Homo sapiens: one gene and its partners. The protein of the gene in region 1 interacts with the protein of each later gene in a pairwise test. Each region holds a gene or a part of one and is shown on either strand. Other genes may lie near its edges.

Region 1 (5,196 bases):
GTCTAAAGCAAATAGGAAAATGTTAAGATTTGAATCCGTAGAGTGTGGGTTCTATTATTCTCTCCACATCTTCCATACGTTTAAAATCTTTTGCAATGAAAATAAGCTGTAGTTAAAGCAGCAATGCAGGCTGCCAGTGAGCGCCCCGGAGGCCAGTGAGGACCAGCATGGCTGGGTGGCCTGTTGGAATCCAAGGGGGGCGGGCAGGAGCTGCAGGCAGGCGCCCGGGAGTAGCCCGGGCATGGGGGTGCGGGGCAACAGGGATGTCTGCAGGGGTAGCATGTGGGCCCCGGACTGCAAGCAGGTGGAGCCAGCCGGATGCGGCTCCTATGAGAAAAGCGGGGAACAAGAGACCACGCTCGTTCTTCCTGCTGCGGGGACAGCCCTGGTCATCGCTCCGGGGAACCCTGCAGCCTGCGCCGCACGTGGCCGCCCCCTGCTGCTTCCTCCTCCCCGGCCTCCGGGTGGCCTTGCTGACGGCTCCTTCTCTGAGGCAGGTCTCTGCCTTCTCGCCTGGTGCCTGCACTCAGTAGCCCCCTCACCAGAGCTGCTGGGTGAAGGAAGCACTAAGAACCCAAGGCTCGGGAGGAGAGTGGGGCCGGGAAGCTGCAGGGAAGCGCAGGGCCAGGCCTGGTGGGCCCAGGGGCTGGCTCACGGGAGGGCAGGAGGGAGACTGTGGCGGACAGCACGTGGGGCCAGGAGGTGACCTCCAAGTGGATTGTGGGTGGGTTTTTTGTCCTCTTTCTGCATTTTCCAGGCATTTTGTAATGTGGATAGAATATTTCTGTTCTTCAAAAATACTTTAGTTAAGAAAAATAAGATGGAAGCTGTTGCACTTGAAAATGAGGAAGCCACTGGTGATGCAGGGGGGGCGGCGGAGAGGACCTCTTCTGCAAATAGCGGCAGGAACACGGCATGGATGCAGCTCGCGCTCCCCCAGGCCCTCCCCTGGGCTGTGTGGAGGGGTCCGGGGGGAATGGGCCAGCGCCCAGTGGTCACCTGGCCATGTCTCCCCACAGCCCGGAAGCAGGAGATCATTAAGACCACGGAGCAGCTCATCGAGGCCGTCAACAACGGTGACTTTGAGGCCTACGCGTGAGTCCCTGGGGCTGGGGGGGGGCTGTGCAGGACAAGGATGTGGGACCCTTGGGGGGGCCTGCTCAGAGTCAGGGGTCCACGGGGCCCCTCCTCACTTGGATTTGGCCCCCAGGAAAATCTGTGACCCAGGGCTGACCTCGTTTGAGCCTGAAGCACTGGGCAACCTGGTTGAAGGGATGGACTTCCACAGATTCTACTTCGAGAACCGTGAGTGAGGAAGCCCGGGTGGGCATGAGGGGGCGGTGCCCCCAGGAGAGCCTCTCGGCCCCTCCCAGGGACAGCATGGTGGCTGCCTATGGAAGCCCTGTCCCCTCTGTGCCCAGGGTTGGCCAGCCACCTCTCCCCCGCCAGAGGCCATACCCAGCCCCCAGAATCCCACTCTTGGAGGGGCCCATGCTGCTCCCAGGAGAGCCGAGCCTCCCCAATAAGGGGAGTTGAGAGAGGGAAAGGATTAGGCTGGTGGGGTGGAAGACGGGCACCAGGGCAGTCATGGTAACCCGAGACCCCCGCCCCGCCTGCTGTCCACAGTGCTGGCCAAGAACAGCAAGCCGATCCACACGACCATCCTGAACCCACACGTGCACGTCATTGGAGAGGATGCCGCCTGCATCGCTTACATCCGGCTCACGCAGTACATTGACGGGCAGGGCCGGCCCCGCACCAGCCAGTCTGAGGAGACCCGCGTGTGGCACCGCCGCGACGGCAAGTGGCAGAACGTGCACTTCCACTGCTCGGGCGCGCCTGTGGCCCCGCTGCAGTGAAGGTGAGTGTTCTGTGCTAAGTGACAGCTGGGGCAGAGGGGTGGCGGTGGTGTGAGTGGCTGCAGCCTGGGGAGGCGATGGGGAGCGGTGGGGCCTGTGCAGAGCCATGCCTGGGAAGTCCCTGAGCTTTCCTGGTGAGGCCACAGGAATGATGTCAAATTAGGGACCACGGCAGGCTGGGTGTGGCAGGCCTCCCCAGAGGACTGGGGAGCTGGTGAGGGCCTGAGCAGTCCACACTGGCCAGAGCTGGGTGGGTTGCAGGTGGATGGGCCCCGGGCAGCACAGTCCTGGGCACCATGCCCTGTTTGTGAGGACTGTTAGAGCCCCAGATGGGCGTTCCCCAGGTGGTGGGTGCAGCGGGCCCAGAGCCCAGTTTTACAGGGATAGTAGTAATTGGGTTGGGCACCTTGAACCTCTCTCCCGAGTGGGCCCTTTTCTGGACTTTAACCCTCTCTGCAGTGCCGCATGGCAGACAGCAGAGCCTGGGGGTGGATGGGAGAGGGGGCTGCTGAGGAGCTGACCCACCCGCCCCATTTCAGAGCTGCGCCCTGGTTTCGCCGGACAGAGTTGGTGTTTGGAGCCCGACTGCCCTCGGGCACACGGCCTGCCTGTCGCATGTTTGTGTCTGCCTCGTTCCCTCCCCTGGTGCCTGTGTCTGCAGAAAAACAAGACCAGATGTGATTTGTTAAAAAAAAACAAAAAAAAAAAAAAAAAAAACAAGATGACGACGACAACCACAAAAAAAATTGACATCAGATGAAATGAAAAAAAAAAAAAACAAAAAAAACTAAAGGAAGGAAAAAGCTGTAAAAATCACTGGCATTCGTGGGGCCACTCCCCACCCAAGCTCCACGTGTGTCCGTCTGTGCTCCTGGCCTCTGGGGGACCAGCTGGGACATGAACTTGTCTGCCAGGCCCCCGTCGCGTGCTGAACGGTGTTAGTTTGTAGGTAACGCACACACCCCACACCTAAGGTGTCTGCATCCTCCTGCCAACGCATGGGCTCCACGTGGTGTGCTCGCTGGCTGTCGTGACTGTCAGCTGTCTCTTGGGAGGGGCTGTGGGGGCCCGCTGGGCTGCCTCCTTTCCCGCTAGTTGTGCCTGAGAGTTGCTGTTGTTCCTGCTTTCCCTTCCCTTCCTTTCATCCCCTGAAGGGCTAGGTGTGGGTTTTCCGTGCCCGGTATCCCCACACACCCAGCACGGACAACCCTTCGGCAGAGCCCAGGCCGGCCCCTCACCCCCTGGAGTATTGAAACTGGAGTCCCGTCCCCAAGGCCTTCAGAGATGCCCCTACACACCCAGGGCTCCAGCTCTGGTCCTTCTGGGGGAGTAAAGTGCAAAGAGGGGCACAGCTTAGTTTTGGGCCTCTCGCCGAGCAAGAGACAGCACTGCTGGCTACAGCTCCAACACAGCCAGCTGTGGCAAGAGGACTCTGCCTGGGCTGGCCCCCCTCCTGTGTGAGGTGTCTGTCCCTTCTCTGCTGGCCAGCAGCAGATGCACTGGCAGCTCCCAACCCTGTTTCCGCCCCTCGGCCCTCCCCCAGCCTGTTCGGCTTCTCTGCAGCCCGCAAGGGGGAGCAGACTTTTGACAAAGGACTGCGGGCCTCGCTCAAGTCCCTGAGCCCCCAGCTGAAGCTGGGAGGGGAGGCCAGGCTTTGTGTCTGGGCATATTCGTCTGCTGATGGGGTTTGGGGAAGCCTGGGGCTTGGGGTTTGGTCGGGTGGTGCAGCTAGTGGCAGAGCGGGATCAGAGGTGGTGGCTGCCCAGCTTCTGGGCTGAGACAAGGGTCTGTGCAGGGGTTTACTGAAGTGGGAGTGCCTTTGGAATCTGGGCCGGGAGCAGAAGGGAGCAAAAGCTACAGTGGGAGCCAGCCTAGGGCACATGGGAGGCGTGAGGGCAGTGCTGCCCGTGCAGTGTCAGGTGTGCCAGTGCCTTGGCGGGCTGCAGTGCGTGTGAGGGCACCTTCTAGGTGGGCCAGGGATGCAGCTATGGAGATAAGGCGGGCTGGGGACAGAAACAGGTGGGCACAGGGCCCAGGACACCAGCGGATGGAGGGCAGGGTCTAGCCCTGTGCTCCTGAGCGTCGGCTGCCTGGGTTCGAGGCGGTGGGTCCCCGGCCCCTTGTGATGGTGTGTACCATGGGGGAGCTCGGGGACAGGGCAAGCCCGAGCATGGTGGGGCTGCAGGGTGGGTCTGAAGCCAGGTTGGGTGGGGGTGGTCACAAGCCCTGACTGCAGAGGGTCAGGGGCTCCTGCCCCAGTGCCTGCCCACTTTCAATTCACATTGTTTTCAACAAGGATTTTCTTTATCTTCCCCTACAAATCAAGCCAAGGGAGGGGCACAGAATGGGGAACAGGACACAGGATCCTAAACTCCAAGGGGACTGTCCACCGATGAACACTCAGAGTGGACACCATCTTCCGTCCACGCTGTGCCCAGGACAGCTGTCCCCATCCATGAACACAGGGTAAACATCTGCCGGGCTCCGCACCAGTGGCTCCCTGGGCCATGGGACAGCGGCAGGGCTCACCACGGACAGCACGTGGCCCAGCAGCCGGCCACCCTGGCGTCCTGGGGCCTCCTCCCCTCCTCTCCCTCTCACCTTGTCACCTCCACGGAGCTGCCTGTCTGGGATAATTTGGGGATTTTTTTTCTGGGGGATAATTCTTTTGCATGACCCCTAAAGAGCAAGCCACACCGGTCTGCTAGCTAGGTGTCCGCGGTGTGGTGGTGGCGGCCGCTGGCCAGCGCTGCAAGGGGTCGGCTGCCCACGGTGCTGGCTGGCCTCCCCTCCTCTCTCTTTTTGCTGAGTTTCATTGTCTTTTCTTTCTGAGCCTTGTAAGTGTACAAAAATTATTCTTATTTTGTTCTGTCTCGGGAAACTGCAAATAAAAGAAAAACAGGACAAACTGCTTCAAGTGCAGCTGGGTGCTTTAGCTGGAATCCTGCCGACCTCCTGCGCCAAAATACAGACTCAAGCCCGGTCCCTGGCCAAGACCCTACTTGGGCCCCTCCTCCAATGAAAGGTAGTGCTATGGGAGCCCTGAGCTGGCCCTGACAGTCCTGAGCCCCTCTAGGGTGAACGGCTCACCCCAGGTAGGGCACTAGTCATAGATCATAGCTCTACCAGCTGTCTCCACCTCTTCCTCTGGTCCTCTGAAGTCTTCTGGGCCCAGCGCTGTCCACCCTGAATGCTGGAACTGAAACTGGATCCCAGCCCCCAACACCCCTGACCTCTCCATTCACCCCCGGTGGCCGCTAAGGATGTGGCCAGGGCAGCCTCTGGGCAGGAAGGAGCCCCAGGACCAAGACCTCTGGCTGTCCTGCTGTTTCCTTCC
Region 2 (5,196 bases), on another chromosome or scaffold:
GTCAGTTTGAAGTTTGAATGAAATAGACGGTGGCCTCCAGGAGGGGCCCCTCTATCTGTTGTGCTGAGATTGACTCAGCCCTGGCTCAGCGATCCTCAGAAAAAAAGTGAAAATACAGGTTGAGTATCCCTAATCCAAGCCTCTAAAATCTGAAATGCTTCAAAATCCAGAACTTTTTGAATGCCAATATCATGCTCAAAGGAAATGCTAATTGGAGCATTTTGGATTTCAGATTTTTGGATTATAGATGCTCAATTGGTAAGTATAAGGCAAATATTCCAAAATAAAAAAAAAATCCCAAATCCAAAACACTTCTGGTGTTAAGCATTTTGGATAAGGGATACTTAACTTGCATCAACTCATTTCATAACTACAACACCACTTTAAGGTCCGTAGTTTTATTATCCCCATTATATGGGGATTAAGCACACGGCTTGGCACAGAATAGACACTCACCAAATATTTTTTGACAGATAACCCAATGATTGGTATGGAAATAAATAGCACATATTCATAAAGAGTTTTAGGAATGTAAGGCATTATCTAGCAGACGGAATAAACTTGGACCCAGGGGCCAGAAGACCTGCTGTTTTTGCCTATATGGCCTTGGGCAAGTCTCTCAACCTCTCTTCTATAAAATGAGGTGGTTCTTCAAGTTCTAAAAGTCTGATTTCTAAACAAAAACAACCAACATGGTCTTATTAATTTACAACATAATTAATTCAGAGTGGTGACTAAACTGGTCATGGTATAAACTAGTTTGTATTTGTTCATTCACAAAATAATAATAAAAAAGGTTTGTTAAGCAAATAAGATGGTAGAAATGTTAAGCCTATTTAAGATACATATGTTTTCAAGCAATTTAAAAAGCATAGAAGGAGCACATTGGCATATTAACGGGGTGTTAATTACAAAAGAATCTTTTAAAGCAGGTTTTCTAAAATCCCCACTGAGTAACCATTAGCTTGTGGTACTTGAAACACAAACTGTTCACATGTGTTACTTAGAAGTAATAAAATTGTAATTTAAAAGTAATCTGCCAACTTGTCACGAATTTAGACTGATTTTTCTCTCAATTGATCCAAATGAGTGAGGTTTTGCTATAATTATATATAATGCTGGTAATAATGAGGCTGATTATCAATCTTTCCCTGCTTTTCACTACCTCCATCATTACAGATTTTAGGGGAGGGGGGCGGGGGTGGAGGAAGATGGGAGGAGTGGGAGCGAGGGGAGGAGGGGGGTGGAGGAGAGGGAGAGAGGCAGGGATGCCACTCTCTCCCTCCCCCTTCCTTCAAGCACCGGAAGCAACCCCAGCTCCCACCCTGAGCAGCTCATCAGCCCTTCTCTGGGGGCTACATGAATCCAGGTGGAACTGCCCTGTGCGGCTTCGAAAGGCTAGCCAGCTGGTCCGAACTGGGGTTGCGTGAAGCATGCAGCAGCGTCAACCCATCAGCTAATGCATGCTTTCATTCTCACATTCCCACTGAGAGGCTGAGAGGCCTGAGCCTCTGGGGGCAGAAGGAGGGCCTCTTCTACATGCTCTCCACTCTCCAACACATTCCTTGATTTTTCCCCACTGAGGAAGCCAGAAAGGGCTTCCATAGCAGAGAAGGTTTCCTTCCCATCAGAAGAAAGCTTCTCTCTGCTCCCCATTCACTGGAAATTTAATGTCTAACATCTTGTTTTCTACATCGGTTAAAATGTAAAGCTTTGCACCAGTAAAACAGTTATAAAATACCTTCCCATTCCATCTCAGGGTGATTGTGCAGCCTAAATGTTTATAGGAAAGTCCCCTTGAATATGCTGATAATAATTCAAATATAAGAAATGCATATTAGCTAATCCCTGGTGTCTGAGTGGCTGTTATGTGGAAAGAGGAGGGAGAAGAAGATTAGGCTGGGCTGGGAGCCCTGAGGAAGGGAACCCAAACTAGGGGTTGAATTGTGAAGAGATAGAGTCAAGATGTGGAGTGTTCTAGTGAGAAAGGCCAGGGTCAAAATCCTGGGAGAGGCCAAGTATTGAATTGGGAAGGGGCAGGAAGGTCTGTGCTGGGTAACTGCTGTAAGAATTTACAGAGTAGTACAGTATAGTACATGGTAGAGCTGGGATTAAAATCCAGATCTGCTGCTTTTCCTCATATTCAAATGCCACTTTTATCATTTATTAGCCAAGTTCCCTTTGGCAAATTATTAATTTCTCTGTCCCCCAGTTTTTACATCTGTATAATGGGGGTAATAAAACTACCGACCTTAAAGTGGTGTTTTAGTTATGAAACGAGTTGATACAGGTTAAGTATCTCTTATCCAAAATGCTTAGCACCAGAAGTGTTTTGGATTTAGGATTTTTTTTTATTTTGGAATATTTGCATTATACTTACCAATTGAGCATCTATAATCCAGAAATCTGAAATCCAAAATGCTCCAACGAGCATTTCCTTTGAGCATCATTTTGGCATTCAAAAAGTTCTGGATTTTGAAGCATTTCAGATTTTAGATGCTTGGATTAGGGATACTCAACCTGTATTTTCACTTTTTTCTGAGGATCACTGAGCCAGGGCTGAGTCAATCTCATGAGAGCCACCAAAGCCCATGCATTCTAGAAAATTAACTTCATTCCCTGGGCCTCTGTGTCTTCTACTTTTAAAAAGAGGAGAAAACACCAGCTTCCTCTGGGAGCCCCTGGCACACCCGCGATCCAATGCTGGTGGCTAAGTTCTCTGCAGACCTAGAAGCTTCATAATGAGGGGAAGGAAGAGGTGGGGCATTTAGATTCTCTTTGCACAATTTCTTCCCCCAGTTGCTATTCAGCTCTCTATCTCTTGGTGAGATTGTAAATGTTTTAGAAAATAGTTTATACGAAATATGTTCCTTCCTAAATCTCATAAACAGTTACTCCTTTCCACATAAACCTTAACCACTTATGCCCATGATAGGTTCCAATTAGCCACCCACATATCTGTGGAGGGGAAAAATATGTTCTAGCATATACACACATGTGCACACGCACACATACAAGCAGGTCCAACTCAACCCCTTCTCTATGGCTATTTTCAAGTGAAAGCAACTATTCTACATGAATGGTCAGGGTCAGTTGGACAGGACTCTTGCAAATAAGTATGTACCCAAGGGAAGCCACCAATTAATTCTGCAGAGATCACCGTTGCTCTTAACCTATCCCATGGCTTATTCCTCAATGGCCAGTCCACTGGGTCTGCAACAACCAGTCAGTGCTGAGGCTGCATATCTGAGGTTGTATTGGAGCACCGGGAGCTCCCTGGGGGTGTGCTGCTGCCCCTGGCTTTGCAGAGCAACTGTGTCACTCACAGAAGCTGTGAGAGGCAGCTCAGCAGTGTGAACTCTGGGAGCTAGTCTGCCTGGGTTCAATCCCTGGCTGTGCCATTTTCTAGCTATAAGACCTTAAGCAAGTTATTTCACCTCTCAATTCCTCTGTTTCTTTGTCTCTAAAAGGAGTACGAGAACAATGGTAACAGTACCTACTCCTAGGGTTGTTATGAGGATTACATGAGCCGAGGCTGGTAAAGTGCTTACAATAGTAGCGAGCATTAGTGTTACAGTGTGTTTGTTAAATGAAATGAGAGAAGTCCTCTCTCTCCCTGATCTCCTTCTCACCCTGAGGATTACTGCACAATTGGATGGGGGGGATTACAGGCTTTGTTTTGCCATCTTCTAAGAGGCAGCAACTGTCTCATCCCAGAAAAACAAACCTATTACTGAGCAGCTGGCAAACCCTGGACTTGGCAGAGAAGGAGAAGAGAAGGTTTCTCTCATCATTACATGGTAGGGCCCAAAGCTGGGAGATTGGGCACCTTTGTGGAGCCACCACGTAGCCACCACACTTTGGCCAGTTTGAGCAATCTGTTGCTCACTGATCAGATGATGCTCTGACATCTGGTAAGCATGGTCCCAGACACAAATCTCAGGTGTTATTTCCAAAAGGTGACTTTGCTTCCCTGGAGATTCTTATACAAATCATGGGGCCCTCTGTAATTCCATGTGCTAATATGTAACAGGGCAGGGGGTTATACACCAAGTATTTTAATAAGTGCCGTGCAACTTGCTGCACTGTGGCAGGGGAGGTTAGAGGCCAAAGGTGACGTCCACTCTAATCCTGCTTTCCCCTGTGCCTGCTTGTGAGTCCTCTGTCCCTCTCCCTCATCACAGAAAGTTCTCAAACAGACCTCCCTGCAGACGGGGGCAGAGTCCTTTGGCTCAGCATTTAGGCCTCCTCTTAACTGGCACATGCCAACAAAATGGAAAACCTCAACAGAACTAAACAAAATAATTCTTCTCCTCCCTCAAGAATGACAAAGAAAAGTAGCTTTACAGGAGACATGTAGACAACCTACATGACCCTTTCCCCTCAAGTTCCCTATACTATACTGAACTATTTCCTTCCATAGCTGAACCATTGTGTTTACTTCTATCTGAAATCTAATTACGCTAAATATCAGAGCCCCCACAATTATGAAAATCTATGCCAGCAAAATATGAGGGTCTTTGTGGATTTAATTTTATTTTCCCAGATTCCTTATTTATTATTTTACAATAATGTCTGATTTTTAACTATTTTGCATGTTAGTCTCTGAGTAAAATAGAGGGGAAGAAAATATTGTATTAGGTAGCAAATATATGGACAACACTATAGCAGCTGTTTTTCACATGCTAACTCATTTAATTTTCACAATACTCTAAGGATGAGATTATAAATCCCATTTTAGAGAGAAAGGTGCTAAGGCTCAGAGAGGTTCACTAGCTTGCCTAAGGTCACACAGCTACTAGGTGAAAAATTGGGAACCAAACTCAGCACACTACCTCTTCCTGCCTCCTCTTCCTCCTGGTGCTCTTTTCACTATATTAAAGCAACAATATTATAAATTTGAGTAAGGGCTTTTCTGGAAGTGTTCTGCAGCTCAGCCCCATATAAATTTGGACTAGTCCCTGCCTTCTTTTGAGCCTCAGTTTACACATCTATAAGATGAGAGCCTAAGATGCTGTTTCAGGTCCTTAGGATGCTAACATTCCAAGATTCCAGCCCCCATGGAATTTTAACTAGATCTTCTTTCTCTGGCTCTTACTTTAGTTCTCTCCCTAAATCCTTCTAGCTTCAACCCTTTTATTCACCCCAACTGTCTCCAAGGGTCTCTTTGGCATTAATGAAGCCACAGTCTCACAG
Region 3 (5,196 bases), on another chromosome or scaffold:
GCTGAGCAAAAATAATCGCTCCAGGCCCAGCTGCCTCCTGTGAATATCCCGAAGCCTCACCTTGTCCCCGGCATCCTGGTGCTTACTGGGCTGTGGCGGCCCAGCCCTCCCTGATCACTGCGCCCCTTGACTCTGCAGCTCTTCATCGGGTTTGGCTTCCCCTACGAGGGCCCCGCCCCCCTGGAGGCCATCGCCAATGGTTGCATCTTCCTGCAGTCCCGCTTCAGCCCGCCCCACAGCTCCCTCAACCACGAGTTCTTCCGAGGCAAGCCCACCTCCAGAGAGGTGAGTGGAAAGCATCCTGGTCCCCGATCAGGAGGGGCCGGGACAGAGACCCCTGCAGGTCCTGGAAGAGGCAGACTGAGATGTGGGGCAAAAGGAGATAGGACAAGTGTATGGGGTACCTTTCTTTGTCCCTGTCCCACTGGCAGGCACGGGGGGCATCTGCAATCTCTGTACCCTTGCCAGGTGTTCTCCCAGCATCCCTACGCGGAGAACTTCATCGGCAAGCCCCACGTGTGGACAGTCGACTACAACAACTCAGAGGAGTTTGAAGCAGCCATCAAGGCCATTATGAGAACTCAGGTGAGAGCAGCCACATACAGTTGAGACCCCCCACTAGTCCACACTGCTGGTCTTCACTCTGATTAGAAAACGGTGCCCCCCTCTGGGTGAGTTCAGACTTGCAGGCCTGGGTTGGCAAAGGTGTCCATCCCTCCCCTGGTCAGACACAGCCCTGAGCCAGGGCATGTGGATTGGAGAATGGAATGGGGGATCCCATTCATCTACTCAGGTGTGATGTGTGGGGAATGCCTTTGTGCAGTGAGCAACCTGCACAACCTTACATGGCAGCCCTGGATCTCAAATTGTTTATGGAGCACTTTTGAGGGCCAGGTGCTAACTGAATGTTTTCACGATGGATGTGTGGAGGTTCTTGAAACTGCTGCAGGTGTGGCTTTGCAGCCTTTACACAGCACATTTCAAAATATAATGTGCATACAGAGCGTCTGTTAATGCGGGGCAACGCTTCGAGTAGCAAGGGGGCAGAACACCCTGGGTCTCCAGCGAACGTGGGTGCTGGTGTGTGTAGGTGCACATGTGTGGGCTGGGTGAGAGTGAGGAGGGGCTTGTGCCTGATGCTCATCTCCGCAGTGGACATGTTTGTGGCTTTTGATCGTGCCTTGTGCTTGGCTGGTTCCTTCATTCTGGGGAGGCTCAGACCTGGTGAACGAGAGAGCCTCCTCTCACTATGGTTCTCCTGGATCCCCTTCTTGCTATAGCTCAGATGATAGGCTGAGCAAAAATAATTGCTCCAGGCCGGGAATGGTGGCTCCCGCCTGTAATCCAGCACTTTGGGAGGCCGAGGCGGGCAGCTCACTTGAGGCCAGGAGTTTGAGAGCAGCCTGGCCAACATGGCAGGTTTCTCAAAGTTAGGGACTGTCTGAGATTGGATTCCTCCAGGAAGTAACATGAAAACAGGGATTTTAGCAGTAGCTTATTTGGGAGGCAACCCCAGGAAGCAGGCACGGAGGTGCCAGGTGAGGCAGGGTGTGTATCAGCAGGTGGCACCTGGAGCTCATCACCACGGGGGCCTCTGCAAGATGGGGTAGGTCACATCCCAGAGCTGTCCTGCCCGAGGAGAAAGAGGCTAGGGTAGGTATCCTCCTCTTCCCATCCATCTGTGGCTGAGGGTGGTGCCTGGGATGCCAGTTCCTGACACTTTTGGCCTGCACACAGATGGGCTCGGCAGGCCAGAGACAGCCTTGAGGTGGAGTCACCGGTGACGGAGGGTGGGGCGCTGATGGCCCTGCTGCAGGGAGAGGTTGTGTGACCTTGTAATGCTGGATCCTAGCAAAGCACCGGCCTAGACAGAGTGGGGAGGGATAAAAAGCTCCCTTGCTAGCTCTCAACGCAGTGTTGTCCCCTGTCCTGGGCTGGTGGCTTAAGTTCTGGCAAGGCCTTGTAGAGCAAAAGCAACTAGAGGCCAGGAGCAGGGGCTCACACCTGTAATCCCTGCACTTTGGGAGGCCGAAGCGGGCGGATCACTTGAGGCCAGGAGTTTGAGAGCAGCCTGGCCAACATGGTGAAACCCCATCTCTACTAAAAATACAAAAAGAAATTTAGACAGGCGTGGTGGCACACGACTGTGATCCACCAAGAGGCTGAGGCAGGAGAATCGCTTGAACCTGGGAGGTGGAGGTTACAGTGAGCCGAGATCATGCCACTGCACTCCAGCCTCGGTGACAGAGCGAGACTCCATCTCAAAAAAATTTTAAAAAGATAAATAGGAACTTGGCCCCTTGGCCACGCCCTAGGAAGAGGGCCAGGTATTTGACTGGTACCAGCTTATAGGCTTAAATGGGGCTAGAAGTACCAGTGCCAGGAAGGAGGCCTTAGGTAGGGACCTCAGTGCATAGGAAAGAAGAGTGAAGGGGGTTAACTGATTAATTTCACTGCTGGAAACTGACCAACCCCAGCCCCCTGCACGGGGAAGCTGGCAACAAGGCGTACAGGTAGGCAAGGGGGCTCCTGTCACCCCACAGTCTCCTCCAGCTTCTTCTCCCACTTCTCCACCCACCTCCCTCTGCTCTCCTCCCTCTCCCCTCCCCTTGCAAACCAATCCTCTAAGACTTCTCCTGCAGAGGGGCTCGGGCAAGGCTGGGGAGGGGGACTACATAGACTTTTCCAATGTGGGGAGCAGCGTTTGGCCCAACCTCCAAGACACATTGTTAAGCTAAAAGAGCGAGACACTCCACCTTGGGGATAACTTGCCCCCCCGGGAGGCCCAGAAAGCGGGGTCGGGGGAGGGCTGTGTGCATGAAGGTGCTGCGATAGTCGCGGGTATTTCTGGTGGGACACACAAGAAATTGATAACTGGGGGAAGGACTGACTGTCTGCGGTGAGAGGAAACTTCCCTTTCATTGCTTTCCTGTTTGGTTTTTTTTTACATGAACATCTGTTTAATTTTGTTAATTAGTTAATTAAAAAATAACAATTACAAAAGGATTAAGGAAGCAAGGTATTGCAAATCTGACCAGCTGAGATTTGTGCTGGGCCCCAAACCAACGGAGGCCCCTCTGCCTTCAGACCCCTCCCTTCTGTGGGCCCCACCCCTCCGCATAACAGCTCACCCCCTCAGCTCACAGCAGCTCAAAAACATTTATGTGCCCAAGAGTCACCCGGGGGGAGGGCCTTAAATGCAGATCCTCGAGCCTATCCCGCACCTTCCCATTTAATAGGACCCAGCTTCGCGTGGGAATCTGCATTTTAAACAAGAACTCTGGGTAATTCTAATCTTCCCATTTTATTATTTTTTTAAAATTTTCTTTTTATATTATTTGAATAGAGATGGGGTGGGGTGGGGGGGGGGTCTCATTTTGTTGCCCAGGCCAGTCTCGAACTCCTGGGCACAAGCAATCCTCCCGCCTCGGCCTCCCAAAGAGCTGGGATTACAGGCATGAGCCACCATGCCCGGCCTAATAATTCTATTTTAGAAAACAGATTTAGGGACAGCTGGTGGAGGCTGAGAGCAAATGAGGGCTGCCATCATGGGGAGTGGCTTGTTCTGCAAGTCATGTGGCCTTTTACAGGGAGAGGGAGGGAGGAGCGGCCAGGATGGGGAGAAAGAGGTGAGAAGAAGAGGTGAGAAGAGGGAGGTCTAAGACACAGCGAGCCGGCCCCGGGCCTGACAGCCATGGAAAACCAGGGCCCGGCACCCCTTCTGTGTCTCTGCACCTCCCTGGGTTTGCCTGTGGACATCTCTGTGTCCAGAGCAAGGCCATTCAAGGTGATGCCAACACTGGCTTCCGCTGCACCCCTCCCTGCTGTCATTCCCGCAGGCCAGCAGTTCCCAGGCAGGATCAGCACCTGTCACTCTGTCGAGACTGATTAGGGCGCACACCTGTAATTAGACCTAATGGGGGTAATTTCCAGGCCAGGCAGGCTGGCTCCTCCGGCAGGAGATTCGTGGCAGGCGGAACGTCGTCGTCGTCGTTGGCCGTGAGTGTTTGCTTCACACAGGGACCTTTGAATTATCTTGTGACAAGGGCTTACAGACACAGGAGCAAGAGTAACTCAGAGATTTGCTGTCACGGAGCCGGGGAGCGGCATTTGGAGGGGAAAGCTCTTCTCTGGGGAGTTTTATTTATAACCTGAGAGTGAAGCCTTGTCCCCGCAAGACCCCCAGAAGTGTGTGGGGCTCAGAGGCTCCCAGGACTTCGTCATGAGTGTTTAGGGAACCAGCTGGGGCAGCAACTGGCTGCCAGGGTCTTCTTGGGCCATCGGCTCGGGAATGAGAGCAGGTCGGGACAGGGCTGTGCAGAGCACGGGGCTTCAAGGCTGGGCTGGGGATGGGACCTGCAGATTCTCCGGGACTTCGAACTTGCCCCAGCGTTGAGAATACCCACGCACAGTGCAGGGGGACGTCAGTGCTGGGGCAATGTCCGGCTTCAAGGACATCAGTGACTGCCGCTTCCCTGGGACCCTTGAGTGTCAGGGATGTCCCCTTGGCCAGAGGCCCCAGGACGAGTCTCCTAAGAAGTGGGGTACACAGAAGGCAGGACCGAGCTTGGCGCAGTTGGACTTTCTAGCACCACCCAACGCTGATGAGGAAGAAAGGAGGTGGTTGCAGGCTTGAGTCAAACAGTTAGATTTCACCCACTGGCTAAAGACGGGAAAGCGGCCTCATTAGGAGATGGGCTGGGCCAGGTCAGGTGCCACCAGGCATGGTGGGGTGGGGAGGTTGAAGCCTAAAACAGACCTTTCTCTGAGTCCGGGATGGCTCCTTCCTGAGTCCTGACTGCTGCCCCTGCCCTTTCAGGTCAGTGATTTTCTCCACGGTGGCTCTGCACTGGGCCTGAGAAGGTTAATGGAACAGGAAGGGGTTGGTTGGTTAAGAAGTCGGGGGGAGGCAGGAGTACCCCCTTACTCCTCTGTCACTCTTCCCTCCACTCCCCTGGTTTCTTTTACCCAAGCTACTGCATGCATCTGCCCACAGGACAGGTTGCTGTGTGACTATTAGATATTTATTTATTTATTTATTTTTGAGACAAAGTCTCACTCTGTTGCCCAGGCTGGAGTGCAATGGTGCAGTCTCAGCTCACTGCAACCTCCACCTCCCAGGTTCAAGTGATTCTCCTGCCTCAGCCTCCCAAGTAGCTGGGATTACAGGCACCTGCCACCACGCCTAGCTAATTT

What was found. Proteins that work in one complex are often made in the same cells at the same time.
Region 2: the proteins of CAMK2B (region 1) and RXRG interact in a two-hybrid assay, tested with the Homo sapiens proteins (one study listed by BioGRID).
Region 3: the proteins of CAMK2B (region 1) and MGAT5B interact in a two-hybrid assay, tested with the Homo sapiens proteins (one large-scale study listed by BioGRID).

What each region holds. Positions count from the first base shown.
Region 1 is NC_000007.14:44,216,725-44,221,920, reverse strand, and holds the end of CAMK2B (calcium/calmodulin-dependent protein kinase type II subunit beta), read left to right. Parts: intron 1-1,019; coding exon 1,020-1,095; coding exon of another isoform or gene 1,096-1,099; intron 1,100-1,210; coding exon 1,211-1,305; intron 1,306-1,626; coding exon 1,627-1,859; 3' UTR 1,860-1,861; intron 1,862-2,398; 3' UTR 2,399-4,767; downstream 4,768-5,196. UniProt on the Homo sapiens protein: Calcium/calmodulin-dependent protein kinase that functions autonomously after Ca(2+)/calmodulin-binding and autophosphorylation, and is involved in dendritic spine and synapse formation, neuronal plasticity and regulation of sarcoplasmic reticulum Ca(2+) transport in skeletal muscle.
Region 2 is NC_000001.11:165,438,071-165,443,266, forward strand, and holds part of RXRG (retinoic acid receptor RXR-gamma), read right to left. Parts: intron 1-5,196. UniProt on the Homo sapiens protein: Receptor for retinoic acid. Retinoic acid receptors bind as heterodimers to their target response elements in response to their ligands, all-trans or 9-cis retinoic acid, and regulate gene expression in various biological processes.
Region 3 is NC_000017.11:76,940,264-76,945,459, forward strand, and holds part of MGAT5B (alpha-1,6-mannosylglycoprotein 6-beta-N-acetylglucosaminyltransferase B), read left to right. Parts: intron 1-138; coding exon 139-285; intron 286-468; coding exon 469-585; intron 586-3,839; coding exon of another isoform or gene 3,840-3,911; exon of another isoform or gene 3,912-4,994; intron 4,995-5,196. UniProt on the Homo sapiens protein: Glycosyltransferase that acts on alpha-linked mannose of N-glycans and O-mannosyl glycans.